2 linked regions of the Homo sapiens genome follow. The protein of the gene in region 1 purifies or fractionates together with the protein of each later gene. This does not show direct contact. Each region holds a gene or a part of one and is shown on either strand. Other genes may lie near its edges. The genes, in order: SVIP and GOLGA1.

The links.
Region 2: the proteins of SVIP (region 1) and GOLGA1 fractionate together in Homo sapiens (co-fractionation; one study listed by BioGRID). This does not show direct contact.

What each region holds. Positions count from the first base shown.
Region 1 is NC_000011.10:22,823,191-22,827,018, forward strand, and holds part of SVIP (small VCP/p97-interacting protein), read right to left. Parts: intron 1-3,828. UniProt on the Homo sapiens protein: Negative regulator of the ER-associated degradation pathway (ERAD) of misfolded proteins. It competes with AMFR/gp78 for binding VCP/p97, and inhibits AMFR/gp78-VCP/p97 complex formation that is required for degradation of ERAD substrates.
Region 2 is NC_000009.12:124,916,927-124,920,754, reverse strand, and holds part of GOLGA1 (golgin subfamily A member 1), read left to right. Parts: intron 1-3,828. UniProt on the Homo sapiens protein: Involved in vesicular trafficking at the Golgi apparatus level. Involved in endosome-to-Golgi trafficking. Mechanistically, captures transport vesicles arriving from endosomes via the protein TBC1D23.

The sequences.
Region 1 (3,828 bases):
ACTTCAGTGAACAAACAGGTAAAAAGAGGAATATGGGACATAGAAATACAAAATGATTTTTCTGAATAGCAGCTATTCATAAAATTTTACATTATAGTCCAAAGCCTGAAATAAGATGATAGTTTAAAAGCATAAAGAAGACAAAATATCTGGTCAGATTGGTGGGTAGTTGCAGGATAGCTCTGTCTCACTGTCTTGCCTGTAGTTTTCAAGAGTAACTGTAGAATGTGCTGGGAATGTAACATCCTGGGATAGCAAATGAATGGCCAAGGACAGCTCAAGTTCTGTTCCAGTCCCTCCCTAAAGACAGGACGTCCTTCAATGCTTTAGCCCAAGGAGTCATGTAGTACCTCCCCTTCTAACCCCCAGGTCATAAAACCCAGGGCACTCATCTGAGGTTCAAGTGGGGCACACACAGATGTCATCAACCCCAGGCAGTTTTCCTTGGGAGACAAGCTTATAATGAATCCTAGGCTTCTGTTGTCCCTTGTTGCCAATCTGTAAGTAATAAACTCACTCCACGTTAAATGTTTTTGGTTTTGTTTTGGGATTTTCTTGAGACAGGGTCTCACTCTATCGCCCAGGCTGGGGTGAGGTGGGAATGGCTCACTGCAGCCTTAACCTCGCAGGCTCAAGTCATTCTCCCACCTCAGCCTCCCGAAAAGCTAGGACCACAGGCACATGCCACCACACCTAATTTATTTTTTATTTTTGTAGAGACAGGGTCTCGCTATGTTGCCCAGGCTGGTCTCTTAACTCCTGACCTCAAGTGATCATCCCATCTTCTCAGCCTCCCAAAGCCTTCCTCTCACAGCTGAGATTACACGTGTGAGTGACTGTGCTCAGCCTCTTCATGCAAATGTTACATGCATGAGTATTCTGTCCACTGGACTCTGAAGTTGGTAACCACTGCACAGTGAACCTGCTATTCAGTAGCAAGAGCCTAAATATCCAATAATCAGTAAAGGAACACAAAATAAAACACAACAAAACAAAAATTTAAAAATTCTTGTTTGAGCCAGGGAGTCAAGAAATGGCAGAAACCATTAAAAAATGGTTTGGCAAGGTCTTTTCCTTCTTGAGTTAAGAAAATATTCCATTTGCCCCTTTGTTTAATGAAGTCTATTAAATCTGTGATAGGTCCTGAAGAGCCATTAGGATAGAACCAGAGATATTTGGCAATCTCTTGATAGTGTTTTCCAAGTACATCCAAGGAATATTATTGGGTGTTTTATATATATATATACACACACACATATATATATATATACACATATATATACGTATATATATATGTATATATATACGTATATATATACACACATATATATATAAAATCTATGTTTAAATAAATTTTCAACATTAAAGATTAATCCAAGTAAACTTGCTTTTCTTCATTGTACAATTTCTTAGAGGCCATAATTCTGTGCCTTTTTTAGTCTCTAAGAAGGGGATATAGTCTACAATATACAATTTAGCATTTTTAAACATTTATTCCCATGGGACTCTATCTTCCAAAACATCTCTCTTAGGACAAGTGTTATAAACGCTAGGATAGTGATTCTCAATCTGGGTTCACATTAGATTACCTTGGGAAGCTTAAAACAGTCCTGATGGCTAAACCCTACTCTCAGAGACTGACTGGTGTGAGGTGGAGCCCAATGAACAATCCTTTTTGAAAGCTGCCTATGAAACTCCAACATGCAGCTAAGGTGGAAAGCCATTGTACTAGAGGTCTACCCTTACTCCCGTGCTGCTATATCCTGTACTGATAGTACTTTGCATCCTGATGCCATCATCACATTGACTTCTTCAGGTAAGAAGTCAGAAGACAGCATTACCCATGCTAATTACCCTGGAAAGATGCAGCACTGGTCAGGAGATGAATAGGTGAAAGGCATGAAGACAGGGAATGCAAACTAGACTCATACTCTAGGTAGAGTCAGGTCAGAAAGACTCTACCTAGGGAAGAGTCTTCCTAACCTTCCTACCTTAGGAAGACTCTACCAATACTTCAGGCCAGCCCATGAAACAAGCCAGACAGCAGCCATTAAAGGACCATAGGCCAAGCGTTTTGAGGGTTAAGTACTTCTGCCTTGTATTTTTCCCTTCTGTTATCCCTGAGCCTTCCAGAATTTTTTCACTTCATGCTCTTGACATGTTGTGCATGTGTCAAGCAGAATGGAGCATGCCACTTGAAGCTAGTGTGGTAGTGGTAGGTGATGAGGAATATTCCAAGGAAAAATTACTCACAGTGGACAACAGCAGTGGCTAATGACAGTGAGCCACTGGAGAAAATCCTCCTGCCACTATATAGTTTCAAGGTCCTGAAGGTCATTTTTACTAAGTGAGTTTGAGAGATTTCTTACAAGAACAGTACACAAAGAAAAACAGAAACTAAATTTAACTTTGGGTATGTTTTACATTTTGAGCACTTTTGAATGGATTGTAAGTAATATAAGGCCTAAATTTTTTTTTTAATCTATAGACTTCAGAGTGTGGAAGCTTCAAGTTTAAGAAAGCCTCTTTCTTTATTATACTTTAAAAGCTGATGTTAATTTCATTAGGTTAGAACTTGTGAAGTGTCTTCTTAATTATGATTAAGTGTTGATTAAATTATCCTTTTCCTATAACATTACGTATGACTTTAACTTAATACCTTCACCACTTCTACTGTGAAATAGTGGATCTCATTATTTCCAGTCCTACAATTTAACTTTTGTAATTTTGTGTTTGTTTTTGACAACCCTATATGAAGTAAACCTAGTGAAACAGCACTTTATCTCAACAGAATATTGAGATATGATAAAGAATTGACCTCGTTATCACCCAACTGTTTTACTTTACACTAGACCTATTCTGTTCTATTATGGAATTATAAAAAACATAAGCAAAATGGTCAGACTTATTTACCTTATATTGAAACTAATTATATATTGCTAAAAGTTCACCATAAAAAAACTTCATAAATTTTCATTCGTTAAATGATATAAGATGAAGTAACGTACAATAGTAAAATACACAGACACACATTCTTATTTCTGTGATATTCTTGAGCCAGAATCAACTGCTCAGGGTGTTCATAAACTGCCTGCCCCACAAGTTACGAGAGTATCTACATGTAGGCAAGTGTATGTGTATATGTCCATGTATATGTATGTGCATGTGTGTGTGTGTGTAGTTTTGAGAGAAAAAAAACCAATAAATCTGTTGAAAGGTACTCATAAATCATTGACAAGTTAAATATAAATGACTGAAATTAAAGACATTGTCCTTTTCACAAATATACTACTATTTACTTTAAAAATGGACCAAGAATAAATTCTTAATATCTGAGCCATTATTTTCCTGAGCTTTAAGGGATTTTAAAAATAAATCCTTTAAAGTCCTGCTAGAGTGTAAAGACTCCAGCATTCAGAGACTCTGCTTAACTTGTCCACCATTATATTCCCAGTGTCTAGCTCTGGGATCCATATCTAGGGAGGTATGTGTATGATACCCACACCTGTATACATTCTGTAATCCAAATTAACATTTACATAACTATAATAAACAGGGGCAATGGAAAGATCAAAGATTCCAAATCAATGCGTAAAAGAGCTCAGGCCATAAAACAGAACTTATAGCGTAATCCAATTTAATAAGATATATAAATGAAGGTTAGAAATTATGTCTGTCAAAATGGTACTTAGTTTGGATGACTTTTACACTTCTTTATACTTCTCCATATTGCTTGAATTTTTGAATTATTTAAGATTAGTAGTAAGCATAAGAGTATTAAAATATATATAGTGTTAAAATAATAAATCTATTATTTCATTTTGGGGA
Region 2 (3,828 bases), on another chromosome or scaffold:
ACCATGTTGGCCAGGCTGGTCTCAAACTCCTGACCTCGTGATCCACCAACCTCGGCCTCCCAAAGTGCTGAGATTACAGGCGTGAGCCACCGTGCCTGGCCTGACTCAAATATGTCTTTAAGCACATAATGGACCTTGAGCATGAAAAATACAATAGTGGCTGACATGACCAGGGCTGTACCTTTGACATACTTGGCTCTAATCCAGTTTGTTTTATGGCACGTAATCAAATGATGTCATTACAATTTGTTTTTTCATTTCATTGACATACATTTGTTTCTACATTAGGGCTGTGCTACACTCTGAGAATATAAAGATGAATGATAATATTTTTGAATATAAAGTAGTGTTTCTCAGGCCCAGCACAGTGACTCAAGCCTGTAGTCCTAGCACTTTGGTAGGCCAAGGCAGGAGGATCACATGAGGTCCTCCTCTTGACCCCATCTCTACCAAAAAAAAAAAAAAAAATTAGCCAGTTGTGGTGGTGTGCACCTGTAGTTCCAGCTGTTTGGGAGGCTATGGTGGGAGAATCGCTTAAGCCCAGGAATTCAAGGCTGCAGTGGGCCATGACCATATCACAGCACTGTAGCCCAGGCAATAGAGCAAGACTATCTTTAAAAATAAAAATAAGGCTGGGTGTGGTGGCGTGCACCTGTAATTCCAGTACTTGGGAGGCTGAGGCAGGAGATTCGGTTAAACCTGGGAGGTGGAGGTTGCAAGTGAGCTGAGATTGTGCCACTGCGCTGCAGCCTGCCTGGGTGACAGAGAGAGACTCTGTCTTAAAAAAATAATAAAATAAATAAATAAATAAATAAATATAAATAAAATAAAGTAGTATTTCCCAATGACATAATTTATTATTGGCATTTTGAGCAGAACAACTCGTATTGTATGATTGTCCATTGCATTGCGCGACATTTAGCATTCCTGGCCTCTGGGTTCTGAATGCCAATAGCATCCTTCAGTCATTGACATCCAGCCCTTCCCCTCACATCACAGAACCACCCCCTATTCGGCAGTGCCATCCACCCTACCCTCATCTTTCAGAATTGCTGATCTCAAGTGAGACAGAGCCTTACAACATAATTACAGTACAGTAAGATTTTGTCAATAGAGGTCTTAGCTAAGTATTATCATACTTACAGATACCTAAGTGGAAACTAAGAGGTTATTGACCTTGTTCACAGTTATAACCGTAAGTGACAGAGTTGGATTCTAACCCAAGTCTTACTCCAGAACTCATGCTTATTCTACTGCACTTTGCTGCCTCACAATAAGGAGCACCCAGTAAATATATACGTGAATGAATGACTGTGATACAGGCTTTTTACCCTCAATGAACTAAAAATCTCAATACAGACATTGTTTTCCTTCAGAGGCTTACAGTTTCATTATAGAACTCAAACCTACTGTAATCACAAGAAAAGAAATGCTCAAACAAGAAGTCTCAAGTAAGTGAACTAGGTTTTTCTTTTTTCTTTTCTTTTTTTTCTTTTTTTTGAGACACGGTCTTGCTCTTTCACCCAGGCTGGAGTGCAGTGACGTCAACGGCTCACTGCAGCCTCAGCCTCCCAGGCTGAAGTGATCCTTCCACCTCAGCCTCCCAAATAGCTGGGACTACAGACACATGCCACTACAACAGGCTAATTTTTTTTTATTATTATTATCTGTAGAGATGGGGTTTCGCTATGTTGCCCAGGCTGGTCTCGAACTCCTGGGCTCAAGCAATCCACCCGCCTCAGCCTCCCAAAGTGCTGGGATTACAGAGGTGAACCACCACACTCAGCCCTAGATTTTTCAAATACAAAAGATATACCATAGGGGAAGTACATTCCAGCCCAGGAGTCAAGGAAATCTTCCTAGAGGAACTGGAATGTCAAGGATCAGGAGGACAGCAGGAGGCAGAAAAGGCAGAAGGTCAGAGAGTACATTTGGGGTCATGGAAGAAGGGGGAAAATAGATACACAACTTTGGTTTTTGTATTATTTTGTTTTTTTCTGAGACAGGGTCTCACTTTGTCACCTAGGCTGGAGTGCAATGGCGTGATCTTGGCTCACTGCAACCTCCACCTCCTAGGCTCAAGCAATCCTCCCACCTCAGCCTCCTGAATAGCAGGGACTACAGGCACCAACCGGGCTAATTTTTGTATTTTTAGTAGAGACAGGATTTCACCATGTTGGCCAGGCTGGTCTTGAACTCCTGGCATCAAGTGATCTGCCCACCTCGGCCCTCAAAGTGCTGGGATTACAGGCACCTGGCCACAACTTTGATAGTCAAGGGACCCTTTGATGTCAATTAGAACCATCTGTTGTTTTTATAATTGGAAAAATGGGGCTCAGGGAAGTCCAGACTTTGGTCACAGTAAGTTTCTTCATTCATTCTAAAAATATTAGTTGAGCTTTACTATGTGCTGGGCTCTGTGCTGGGTGTTCATAATATTATGGTGAGCAAAATAGATACAGTTCTTGCCTTTGTGGTGCTTATAGTCTAGAAGGGAAGTCAGACATTAATCAGTAATCACATATATAATTACTAACCGTGATGAGTGTTCTGAAAGAAAACTACGAGATTTAGTGAGATCCTATTAAAAGATATCAGATCAGGGCTGGGCTTGGTGGCTTACGCCTGCAGTCCCAGCACTTTGGGAGGCCGAGGCAGGTGGATCACCTGAGGTTGGGAGTTCGAGACCAGCTTGACCAACATGGAGAAACCCTGTCTCTACTAAAAATACAAAATTAGCTGGGCATGGTGGCACACACCTGTAATCCCAGCTACTTGGGAGGCTGAGGCAGGAGAATCGCTTGAACCCAGGAGGTGGAGGTTGCAGTGAGCCGAGATTGCACCATTGCACTCCAGCCTGGGCAAAAAGAGCGAAACTCCGTCTCAAAAAAAAAATATATATATATATCAGATCAGATCCAGTTGGAGCCGTAGAACACTTAAGGAAGTAACACTCGATACAGTGCTCAGGCTGGAGAGAAAGGGATGATGGGAGAGAATTTCAAGCAGGGAACAGCATGAACAAAAACTCTGAGGCAAATAAAAGGATTAGCACATTCAAGGAACTAGAAGAAAGCCAGTGACATACAGAATAAGAGAGAATAACAGATTACTCTGGCCGTTAGGAGACTGAGAGGGTCTTCCACTTAGGAAGCTTTTGCAGTTGTTCGACCGTAAGATGATGGAGGCTTTGACAAGTGTGGTGGTGAAGATAATAATGGGTAGACAAATGTAAGAACTATTGAAGAGATTGACAGACTTACTAATGTAATAGATATGGGAGGACAGGAAGAGAAAAGTCTGTATTTTTATGGGTGATTTATGGGCTTCTGGCTTGGGCAAAAGAAGGGCTGGTATTGTGTGAAGATTGTAAATTTGGAATTTGTTTTTTTCTTGTCTTTATTGAGTATATATAAAAACATATTTATAAAATATGAGTATGATAGAAAGTATAATAAGGCAATGAGCCCTCTGAGCTATCCCTCAGGTTAAGAAAAAGAACAATGTGTTTATCTTTGAGGTTCCCTCTGTGCCCTTCACTATTCCATCCCATTCCTTTTTCCTTTGGAAGTAAGTACTATTTGGAGATTGCTTCATTGTCTACTTTGCTTTCTAATGTTGTCAGTTTTATCCCTAAACTATCTTCTTTAGTTTCCCATGCTTGTTAATGTTATATAAATCATTCTGTAGGTATTTTTCTAAACTTACTTTTTGTGCTCAACATTGCACTCCTGAAAAACATTCATATGATACCTGGAGCTATAATTTATTTTTTCTCAATTATATAGTAATATAGTAGGGACATACCAAAATTTTAATTTTTGTCGA